Regions from separate parts of the Homo sapiens genome. Here region 1 is linked to region 2. The links come from fine-mapping of genetic effects on gene expression. A gene starts in region 2. The other region holds a variant in brackets. All regions are shown on one strand. Distances are from middle to middle. Region 1 overlaps HECW2 (HECT, C2 and WW domain containing E3 ubiquitin protein ligase 2). Region 2 holds the start of HECW2-AS1 (HECW2 antisense RNA 1).

What was found. PIP is the estimated chance that this variant, and not a neighbour inherited with it, causes the effect. A credible set is the group of variants that fine-mapping cannot tell apart.
Region 1: its variant is the best candidate, but not a certain one, in a credible set for the expression of HECW2-AS1 in whole blood (INTERVAL, PIP 0.84).

The regions. Positions count from the first base shown.
Region 1 is chr2:196,308,945-196,314,332 of GRCh38, forward strand. All of the region lies in intron 10 of HECW2 (HECT, C2 and WW domain containing E3 ubiquitin protein ligase 2), which reads right to left. Among named protein-coding and RNA genes, the nearest start is that of HECW2-AS1, 52 kb to the left of the region's middle. The variant T/C (reference allele first, on the strand shown) is at 2,280.
Region 2 is chr2:196,257,778-196,263,112 of GRCh38, forward strand. HECW2-AS1 (HECW2 antisense RNA 1) reads left to right here and starts at 2,247. Exons shown (of 3, transcript NR_110226.1): 1 at 2,247-2,463; 2 at 2,554-2,595; 3 at 5,274-5,335. HECW2 (HECT, C2 and WW domain containing E3 ubiquitin protein ligase 2) reads right to left here. Exons shown (of 29, transcript NM_001348768.2): 18 at 46-129. RefSeq lists an enhancer at 1,716-2,915.

The sequences.
Region 1 (5,388 bases), 51 kb after region 2:
TTCTTTAACCAGGAAAATTCTTTGTGCATTTATATTTTTGTGTAAGTTATTTTTTGAAATTAATAAGCATTTTTCTCCTGACACATTCAACTATCCCAAAACTGTCCATGTGATCACATGCTTATCAACAGACACAGTGGGGCTAATCCTGGAGACCAGAAGGAGGGCATATTTTCTCCTGACCACCTATGGCATTTGCTCTGTAAGGGAACAGGGTAAGTATCCCAACAGAGTCCTTAGGGTTGGAAAGACCTGCATGGTAGAGCTCAGCCTGCACCAGACCATTGCTGAAGGCCATCACCTCAGCTAGGAGCAGAAAGACATCTTTTGTTGATCTCAGCACATTGTAATTTATGACAAATGGCAAAAGAAAGAGGAATTGGGCTGAACAAAAGCACCACACAGACAGCAAACAACTCAATGCCATTCATGTTCCAAGGTAACACAGACTCTACCATGAAACACCCTGCCAAATCTGAATTCTTTGGGCACTGCAGTCCCATCAATAAGACATTTTCAAAAGACCTCACGCCCAGCCTGTTGATATGCTCACAAATAGCAAGTACATTAAAGCATCTTCAGGAACCATTTTTCAAAACACTTTGATTTATTTCACTGTTTTGCTCTGCTCCTTGCATGCTTTTCCATCTCAAAAGATTTTGGGAACCAATTACCCCATCTCATTCCTTTCTCATCGGAGTCAGGGTAATTCAGGCACATAGACATCAAATCAAATACACATGAAAAGAAATGACCAATTCTTCTCCAAAGAATGTTTACAGTAGTCCCAATTTTAAAAATGTAGAATAGGTCAATTCAGGATAAAAAAATAGAGACCAACTAGACCAGCTAAAGGAAACAGAGAGAGAAGATGCTGCCAAACTCCCAAGATTAGATTATTACTAAAATTTGGCTCTTAATTTTCTGGCAGTTATGGCAGAAAAGAAAACATATTGTTGCATACTTTCCATTTTCTGACAAAAACAGTGAAAGAAATTCTCAAAGATGGAATTTTTTCCTGGAACTAACAAAGTAGGAATTTACCAAGTGAAATATGACTATGGCTTGCTTGAGGTCTATATGTATAGCAAAATGGCTAGGTGGAAGAGAGAACAGCCAAATTAATGTGTCTTGCACATAGCATGTAATAAATGAAAAAATAATTTAAAATGACACAAAGCCACAAAAAAGAATGATTCTTGTATTCATCTTCTACAAAGGCCAGTAATAGCCTTAATTTATAGTTCAATAAAGACCTTTCAATGTGCAATGGGGAGAATAAGAAAACAAGGACCAAAAATTTGCTTTCTAAGGTCATGGAACACTGAACACATATTAAAATTATCCCTATCAAATACTGTATCTTCACACTGATGTAATTACTCAAGACCCCATAAAGACAAATTCTATAGTGCCAATTTCAAGTGAATGCTTGGCTCTGAATCAGGAAGGGCTGTTATGCTATTGGTTTATCCATGAACTACATATCCACTTCTACCCACGCTGTCAATATCATTCTACCCAGGCAAAGGCAGCAGAGGTGCCTGCAGGAAGGTTAGCTCTCTGTTGTATCTATCAAAGTTACTTTGCTGGGTACAACTGCTCCAACATCTTATATGTCTTTATATTGGGCCTGGTTTGTTTTTGGTATAAGAAAGCATATGAAAACTCATTTCATAGCATCAAAGTTTCTTTCAGATAGACAATGCTAAAATGAGATAGGCAGAGTTAGAAGGCTGAGGACTTAACATTTACTTCCTTGTCTTGCCACATTGTCAAATATGTTATATAATCAGGGTGCAGTGAAAACGAGAGCAACGATTTTGTGTGTGTGTGTGTGTGTGTTTTGCACTGAATTGGGAGGTAGAAGGCCTGATTTCTGGCTGTGGCTTGACACACTTTCACTACAAGACCTTAAAAAAAGTCACTACACCCCTATGAATCACAGTTTTGAAAAATTAGAGGACACAATCAAACAATTGCAAAGGTCTCTTCCAGTTCTAGTATTCTAGGAATCTATAAAATTATGCCCATTTTATTATATTAAGTTCAGCAAGAACCTAGTAACATTTTATGTCTAGGCTAGCCTTACAGGGCCAGGAGATTTGAGTCCCTGAGGGACAGGGCTCCACAAACACCTGACAATCCTATTTTAGCCATGACAGCTCCAATGTTATTGCTGTGTATATTGGTGTTCCACATAATATTTCATTTGCATAAATAGCTTCATGACAATAATAAGGTTTGAAAACTATTACCTACAGAAATGTTTCTCAAGG[T/C]AGGTGGACTCTGACAACATGTGCCAGAATCACTTTGAGGATCAATAAAAATGCAGATTCCTATGATGCACCCCAGGTCTTCAGAATCAGACTATCTGAAGCTAGGGCTCAGTTATCTACACTTTTAACAACCTTCTCGGCTTATTCCTAGACACACTAAAATTTGAGCAACACTGACACAAATTAATAAGAACTTAAAACAGTAGCTAGTTTGCTGAACAAACCCATGAGGCAAATGCTAGATTTCTCAGAGACCATGAAATGGGGGCTCACAAGAAACTAAACCTCAGCGGCCGGGTGCGGTGGCTCACACCTGTAATCCCAGCACTTTGGGAGGGCAAGGCGGGCAGATCACCTGAGGCCAGGAGTTTGAGACCAGCCTGGCCAACTAGGTGAAACTCTGTCTCTACTAAAAATACAAAATTCAGCCAGGGGTGGTGGTGCATGCCTGTAATCCCAGCTACTCAGGAGGCTGAGACAGGAGAATCACTTGAACCCAGGAGGCAGAGGCTGTAGTGAGCTGAGATCACGCCACTGCACTCCAGCCTGGGTAACAGAGTTGGATTCCATCTCAAAACAACAACAACAACAAACAAACAAAACCCTAAACCTTGCCTAAAATCCAGGTGCAAGTAGACTCTTAGACACCCTAAGACTTAAATATAAATAGGCGCTTTTCAGTGGCTGGACATGAAGGGAAAGTCGGAGAATTAGAAAGTGGGTAAAACTACTCCAAGGTTACTGTCACAGCACTGGTCTCCTCAGCAGGGAACAGAGGCAGGTAGAACGTAAGGTCTTCAGAGTTTACAGTTTTTAAAATCAACATATGTGGGAAGGGCGCAGGGTTGTTTCTGTGATCCCTCTGCTCATCTCATCATCCTTTCCCACTCCCTTCAAATCAGACCTCGGTCTCCACTGGACCACTTGGCTTATGATCGGATGAGGTGTGAATACATCTCAGTGGATGCTGATATTGAGAAGTTAACAACTAAACAGCATGAATTACAACGTATCAGGGATGGGTGGGGGGGTGCTATGGGTAGGGTTTTGAATTGGTTATCATTGGATTTAGTAAAATCAAGCACCTGATTGTTGTGAAATAAATGTATAAATCCACTATAAAAAACTATAATAACCACAGGTATCATCACCAAAATGGCGAGATGATTAAGTTCTAATGAACTAAAGGTACTTTCAAGGAAAATTATAAGCTTTGTGATAAATGACAGATGACAGTGTTTAAAAATATTTTTTTCTTATTTGAACACTCAAGGAAGTAAAATTCCATTTGTATAAAGTACAAAAGTAGGCTAAACTTATCTATGACTTTAGGAATCAGGACGGTAGGTCCATTTCCCCATACGGAGTTGCGGTCAGTGATTGAAAGGGGGTACAAAGGGGACTTCTAGAATGCTGATGGCGTGGCCTGCCATGTATGTTTAGTAGAAAGAATTCGGGAGGCCATATGTGCTCTTTTCTGCTATTTTATTTGAACAAAAAGTTTTTTAAAAAGTCAAGTAGTTGCATATTTGGCACTTTAATCTTCAATTTTTAATAAGGTAGCTTTTTAGTTTAAAAGTATCCATTTTTTCCTCAAAACAAAGTTGTAACCTTAGAGAATAAGAGTCCCTAACCCTAAACATAGTAGAAATTCTAAGTTTAGATTAATTATACTTTTCAGATTCACTGCATGGTTTTAGGCCTTCATTTTAAAAAATACTTTAATAATGAAAGTATACAACCACAAAAATGATAAATGTTCCCCCATAGTTTGAACCCCTCACATAAGTAATAGACGAGTCCTAACAATATGCAACATCCTGGGATCCTATCAGAGTCCACTAACCCAGACTGTTCATCTTGAATCTAGGCCTATTCCTAGAAAAACTACCATTTTGGGGGAAAAACGTTTATACAACAATTCCATATTGTCTCCAATGCAGCAATGGGTTAAGTCACAATTACACTGGAATCAATAAGAGAAAAAGAAAATAGTTTTTCAGAGGGGCTGGGCTGGCGATTGTTTTTTCACTCATCTTAATGCTAAAAAGACCAACATTTGTCACACCGATAATATTTTAGAGGGCTTTAGCCCTCAACTACCTCTAGCTGACAGGACCATCAGTAACATCAGAATGAGAAGATACAGAAAATTCTTAAGGCATTCTGGGCATAATTGAGTCCAAGCTACTTCCCTGGGAGGCTCTCAACAGTGTCATGCTGACTCCAAGGCCTGGAACTTTCTTATTTTTTACGAATCATTAGAATATCTCTCAACCAGAGCTGGAGTTACACAAGCCACCAAGGCCACAGTGCACTCTGTGTGGTCTAAGGCAAGAGTAAGATTTTGAGAACCAATTGGTAGATCACCATCACCACTGATCAAACTTAGTACTAAGTCCAAGATCTGTTCCCTTCTTGAGATGGGAGAAATAAGAATGAAAAAAGAAGAAAGCAAACAAGTAAATCCCTGAAAATATGATGAAAAGGTGCTAAAATAACAAGAACAACAATAATAATGATAAAGAGAAAGAAAAAAGAATCAAAGCCAGACACAGTGGCTCGCACCTATAATCCCAGCACTTTGGGAGGCCAAGGTGGGAGGATTGCTTGAGGCCAGGAGTTCAAGGCCAGCCCTGGCAACATAGTTAGACCCCTGTCTCTACAAAAAATAAAAACACAAAAAAACCAGCCAGGCATGATCATGCTTGCCTATAGTCCCAGCTACTCAGGAGGCCGAGGCAGGAGCTTCACTTGAGCCCAGGAGTTTGAGGCCGCAGTGCACCATGATCATGCCACATGGTGGCCATCAAAGCTCAAACTACACTGCTTCAGTAGCTTGTCCCTAGGGTAGAAAGAGAGTGACCTGCACAGAGAGGAAAGGTGCTGCTGGGTCTAATACAGATGCTGAATAGAGCACATCTATCTGGACCACATGATGTTGGCTCAAACCCCTGCAGCCACTTCCCTAATAGGTGAGGGGCCTCCTTGGGGAGGGCCTCTTTGCATAACTCTATCCCAGAAGAAGAGAAAGCTGAGCACCTTTTGAGTCTTCCTGGTGGGTCTGACCTCAAAGCACTGCAATATATTGAAGTTTCAGTGAAACCCC
Region 2 (5,335 bases):
ATGACAAGAGACCTTCTGCTTCAAGAGTGAGTGTTACGTATGTACCTCAGCAACATAACAAGGTCTGCATCGCTTGAAAGGCGCACCAATCCTGGAGTCCCTTCAGTTCGGATAAATTGGATCTTCTCCCTAATCAAGAAAAGAAACAGCACAAAATGTATATGGTAGACCTTTAGGCTATAACTCAGTAGTAAAGAGCATTTTTTATAATAGTCATGATGTTTTTTGGTACCTATTATGTGGCAGCTACTGTGTAATACCCTAGGAATACACATCCAAGAGAGACATGGTCTTTGCCTTCAAGGGGGGGGATCTTGTAAGCATCAACACCTCCCAGTTCTAATGTTGTGGGGAGAAAGATTCTTTCACTGGCTTCATCATTTTGCTGCCCAAGTACTATAAATAGTATACTATTCAACCAATAAAATCAGTGTCTGCTTTGAGTTAAAGCTGACTGTGGGCCTGAATTTTAGCGATATAGTCTTACGCTGATGCCCTGCTGTTCCAAAAAGGGATTGTGTTGGGAGAGTCATCTATTTTCCTGAGGCCATACCTTTAAGTTGCATGTGATGAGCTCATTCCTAATTGGAAGCAGATAGTATCTATGCATTATATATTCAGTGTAAAAGCATATGTATATATTCAGTGTAAAAGCATATGCCTTTTTTAAATAAAGAAAAAACTGAAATACTTTGCTACAACAGTTGGTGAAATAGATTGTGTGCATACCTGTGCAAATGTATATATACATATACATATCAAACACAAGGTGAGTTATTTCTACCATTATTTTGTTATAGGTAAATGTGATACCAGCTTTTTTCTTTTTTGTTTGATGAGTCATCATCATGTCACTATTTTCAATTTGTTATATGAATACAATTTTAATAATTTTTTTCCTAGTTGCTTTCTTCCCTTATTTACATCATGCTATTTCAAAGCACACCATATTAACTTTTATAAGATGAAGAAAAATATAAAAACACAAATTATGGTACTAAAATCATTCTATTTCATTGGAATATACAGGATAATGCAAATATGCAATTTTATTCTGAGTGCTATGGACAATATATTCTGATTCCTATACCATAAAGTAAAATACCAATCACTGATACAAGTATTTATTTAGATTTAGTTCTTATCTACAAGCAACTTGTTTTTCTACTTGATATTTTCACAAAGTTCCACTGATTTTTTTGTTTGTTTGTTTTGAGACAGGGCCTTACTCTGTCGTCCAGGCCAGAGTGCTGTGGCATGATCTTGGCTCACTGCAACCTCTGCCTCCTGGGTTCAAATGATTCTCCTGCCTCAGACATTTGAGTAGCTGGGATTATAGGCATGTGTCACCACGCCCAGCTAATTTTTGTACTTTTGGTGGAGATGGGGTTTTGCCATGTTCGCCATGCTGGTCTCAAACTCCTGGCCTCATGTGAGCTGCCTGCCTTGGCCTCTCAAATGCTGGGATTATAGGCGTAAGCCACCATGCCTGGCCAAGTTGCACTGATTTTTATATTCCCAAATTTGAAATATTTTTCTTAAGATTGCTTGCTGACTTGAAGGCACTGAGGTGGAAGGCAAGGTTTCATGTTCACATGAAAAATTCCCTAATGCATAGAAAAGTCAATGGATTTGCCCTTAGCCACACAGCTTATGAGGTATGACAAACAGAGTTCAGTCCTTGGTTTCTTCTGGCTAGATCCATTTTATATGATAGATGAAGCAGCTAATCTTTAGTATTTGCCAAACTTTCCTTTCTGTACTTTATTGCCAGCAGCTAACTACTATTTTTTTTTTAAAGACTATTAGAAATTAGTGGTAGGCATGTACGTAAAGGAGTTGCTCAGAAGGCCAGCCTCTCTCTGCTTAAGGTTATTTCAGTGAAGGCTTGAACCAGGCAGAACATTTTCCCTCAAGTTTTGGAATCATACATCTGAAACACGTGATGGAAACCCAGGCCCATTATCTGGTGAATGGTTTTTCTGATAAGAGATGTAAATGTTGGCTGATAAAAGCTAAATCAGAGGAAAGTTATCTTGAAGAAAAATGAATAATAACTTAACCAAAGAACTACTCTTATAAGGGTCAGTAACACCATGCTTTGATCTTGAAGAATCAAAAGCTATCTCCCACAAATATGCAGCTTATCTCTTTTGTCTATCAACACAGTGAATCCAGGCAAACAGAACAAGACAAAAAACAAACAGGCTGAGCACTCTCCCCTCCTTCCTTAACTGGAGCTACACAGAAGGAGTTGAGTGATGGTAGATATCAGGCCCTGGTCTGCGGCTTGGAAGTTTCCTGTGAATAAGAAAAACATCATCGCTTCTTGAGTCACAAGGATGATAGGATGAGAAAAAGAAAGGACAAAGGCACCAGAGGAGGTATGCCAAATGGGAAACTTTTCATCACTTTCCAGATAAAAACTAGCAGTCTGTGAAGGCAACTGGTCTGATTTTTCAGGTAAGAACATATGAGAGGCAGGCTGAGACCAATTTTCTACCAGGCCAGCTAATTCATCACAATGACAAGCTATGGGTCATATGCTTTCAGGAACCAGACACTGGAACATGTCGTCTGATGTACATCACACCAGTAAGTACTTTCTTATGTTGATATTGAGTCATTCTTTCAGTGAACATTTTCTGCGTGCCTATTGTGTGCCAGTCATGGTACCACACGCTGGGAATCCAATGGGGAGTAAGAGAAAGTCCCTTTTCAAGGAGCTTACAGTGCAGTGGAAGAGAGAAAGTTAAAAGGTAATTCTCATTTGATGTGAAAATATTTAAATTCTTCTGTTCACTTAATTGAAGCGTGGTTAGGCTTTATACCTTCTCCCGGTCTAAACAGTTCTTTATAAAGTCCTTTCACGTAGAAACAAAGAAGGCATTAGTTTACTGCCTGTAAAGAGAGCAGATCAAGGCTGAGGAACAGACAGAAGTCAGCAGACGTCCTGGAAATGTCACCAATCTTTTCTGAGAAAAACAAAGGAACCACTTCTTGGTTACCAGGTATTTGCCCAATATGCTATAGACCAGTGATTCTCAAACTGGCATCCTTGGTCTACTAGAAATTTGCATACATAAGCTCAAGCTCTGCAAGAATTTTTAAATTTTGTGTCTTCACTTCGATGATCAAAGCACATGAAACAATATAATAATATTTTAGATGAGATGGATGACATTTATGACTGAATCTTGCCATATGACTTCGGGTCCCATGTTTGTATTTATAGGGCACTTGGTGCAAAGTGATCAGAGGTGAGCTTTTAAAGGGACGGCGAACACACCTGGCTGCCCTTAGGCTGTCAGGGCCTTGATGTTCAATATGATAATAACACCAGTCCCCATCTGCCACTTACGCACACTTCGCTTAGCAATTAAAAAAACCTTTTCTCTTACAGTATTAACTTGCATCATGAAAATGATCAAGTGGGGTTAAGTAATGTATATGTAAATTACCACAGGCTAAAGAGAAAATAAAAGAGATGGATTTAAAAAGAAAATTATGCATTCATGCTAAATAATGCATAAAAGATATCCTGGCTTATTCTAAGAACAAAAGCTCTGCAATAGTTTGCAAATAGAAAAGTGGTGGTAGAATCCACTCATCCCAAGGCACATTCAATGATATGTTTTATCCTTCAGTATTGTATTTCAGGTTACACTATTAAATGAATTGGCTTATCAAACCAATGAATCAGTAGATAAAAATAAGCTTTTTGTTAAGAAGGAAAAATGATGACTGATAATTCCAAGGAGGCACATGCTAGGCCAGAGATGCAAAAAATCAAAAGAATCAAGTCAAACACAAGCACAGAAAGGTGCAAATGTGTCTTTCCACCAATAATGGTCTCAACATTGGTGATTTGGCTTCTGAAAAACAAAGTATCCTCATATTAATAGCATTAATTCAAATGTTATTGATTTTTTCTAGTTTTTAACTTAATTTGTATGTCTTTTGGTTTTGTAGTTTATAAAAGCTGTAAGCATAAGAGGTTTATACATATTTTATATTTGTACACATTTAAGTTTAAAATAAAAGTGACTAACGTCAACATTATAGGTCCGCAATATTTCTTTTTCCTTTTAGAGTGGAAAAATAACAGATGTGACTCTTACAAATTTTCATGAGTCCACCCAGCGTTTGGAATAACATAACAAGTTTGAGAAATGTTGTTAAAGACAACTGATCATGATTAGAGGAATGTTTGAAAATTACTTTAATATATTTATTCAAGTTTATAATGTATACAGTTAGAAGGAATCTGTGGCAGTCCTCTCTGTTGCCCAGTCTAGAGTGCAGTGGTACAATCATAGCTCACTATAGCTTCAAACTCCTGGGCTCAGGTGATCCTCTTGCCTCAGTCTCCTGAGTAGGTGGGACTACAGGTATGTACCACCACACCCAGCTAATTTTTAAACATTTTTGTAGAGACAGGGTCTTGCTATGTTGTCTGGGCTGGTCTTGAACTCCTGGCCTCAAGTGATCCTCCTGCCTCAGCCTCCCAAACTACTAGGATTATAGGAGTGAGCTACTTACTGCATCAGCCTGGCTTCTTCTTAACAAAGAAATTCAATTCAACCTCAGTGGTAATATAATGAAGATTAAGGTTATACTAATACAAAGTATTATCATTTGGCTCTCTCTACATGGGTACGTTTATCTCTCTGTGCCCCTTAGAGTACATTCTAGCACTTTTATGGGTACACCTTCTGATTTGGCTAGTGAGGTACAACTTAAATTCCTTTTGAAACATAAGTTTCTTCAGGGCAAAAGCCCTTGCTCCTTTATCTTTTTTTTTTTGAGATGGAGTCTCACTGTGTCACCCAGGCTGGAGTGAAGAGACCCAATCTCGACTCACTGCAACCTCTGCCTCCCGGGTTCAAGTGATTCTCCTGCCTCAGCCTCCAGTGTAGTTAGGATTACAGGAATGCGCCACCATGTCTGGCTAATTTTTGTATTTTTAGCGGAAATAGGGTTTCATATGTTGGCCAGGTGAACTCCTGACCTCAAGTGATCCACCCACCTCGGCCTCCCAAAGTAGCTGGGATTACAGGCACGAGCTATGGTGCTCAGCCCGTCCTCCTTTATCTTTGTGTTCCCCAAGTACAAAACACTTTTCTGTCTACCTGATAAGTGCTTAGTAAAATACAAAGCAGGGACATGATTAATTTAGGCCAAAATAACGTATGTGGCTCCTAACAATTTCCACCCGGTGTTTGGAATAAACAATCTTGCTATCTTTTTTTTTTCTTTTTTTCCTGTGGCAGAGAAATAAAAAAAGAATTGGAAAGCCAATGTCCAATTATTTACTAAAACAGAATCCACTGGA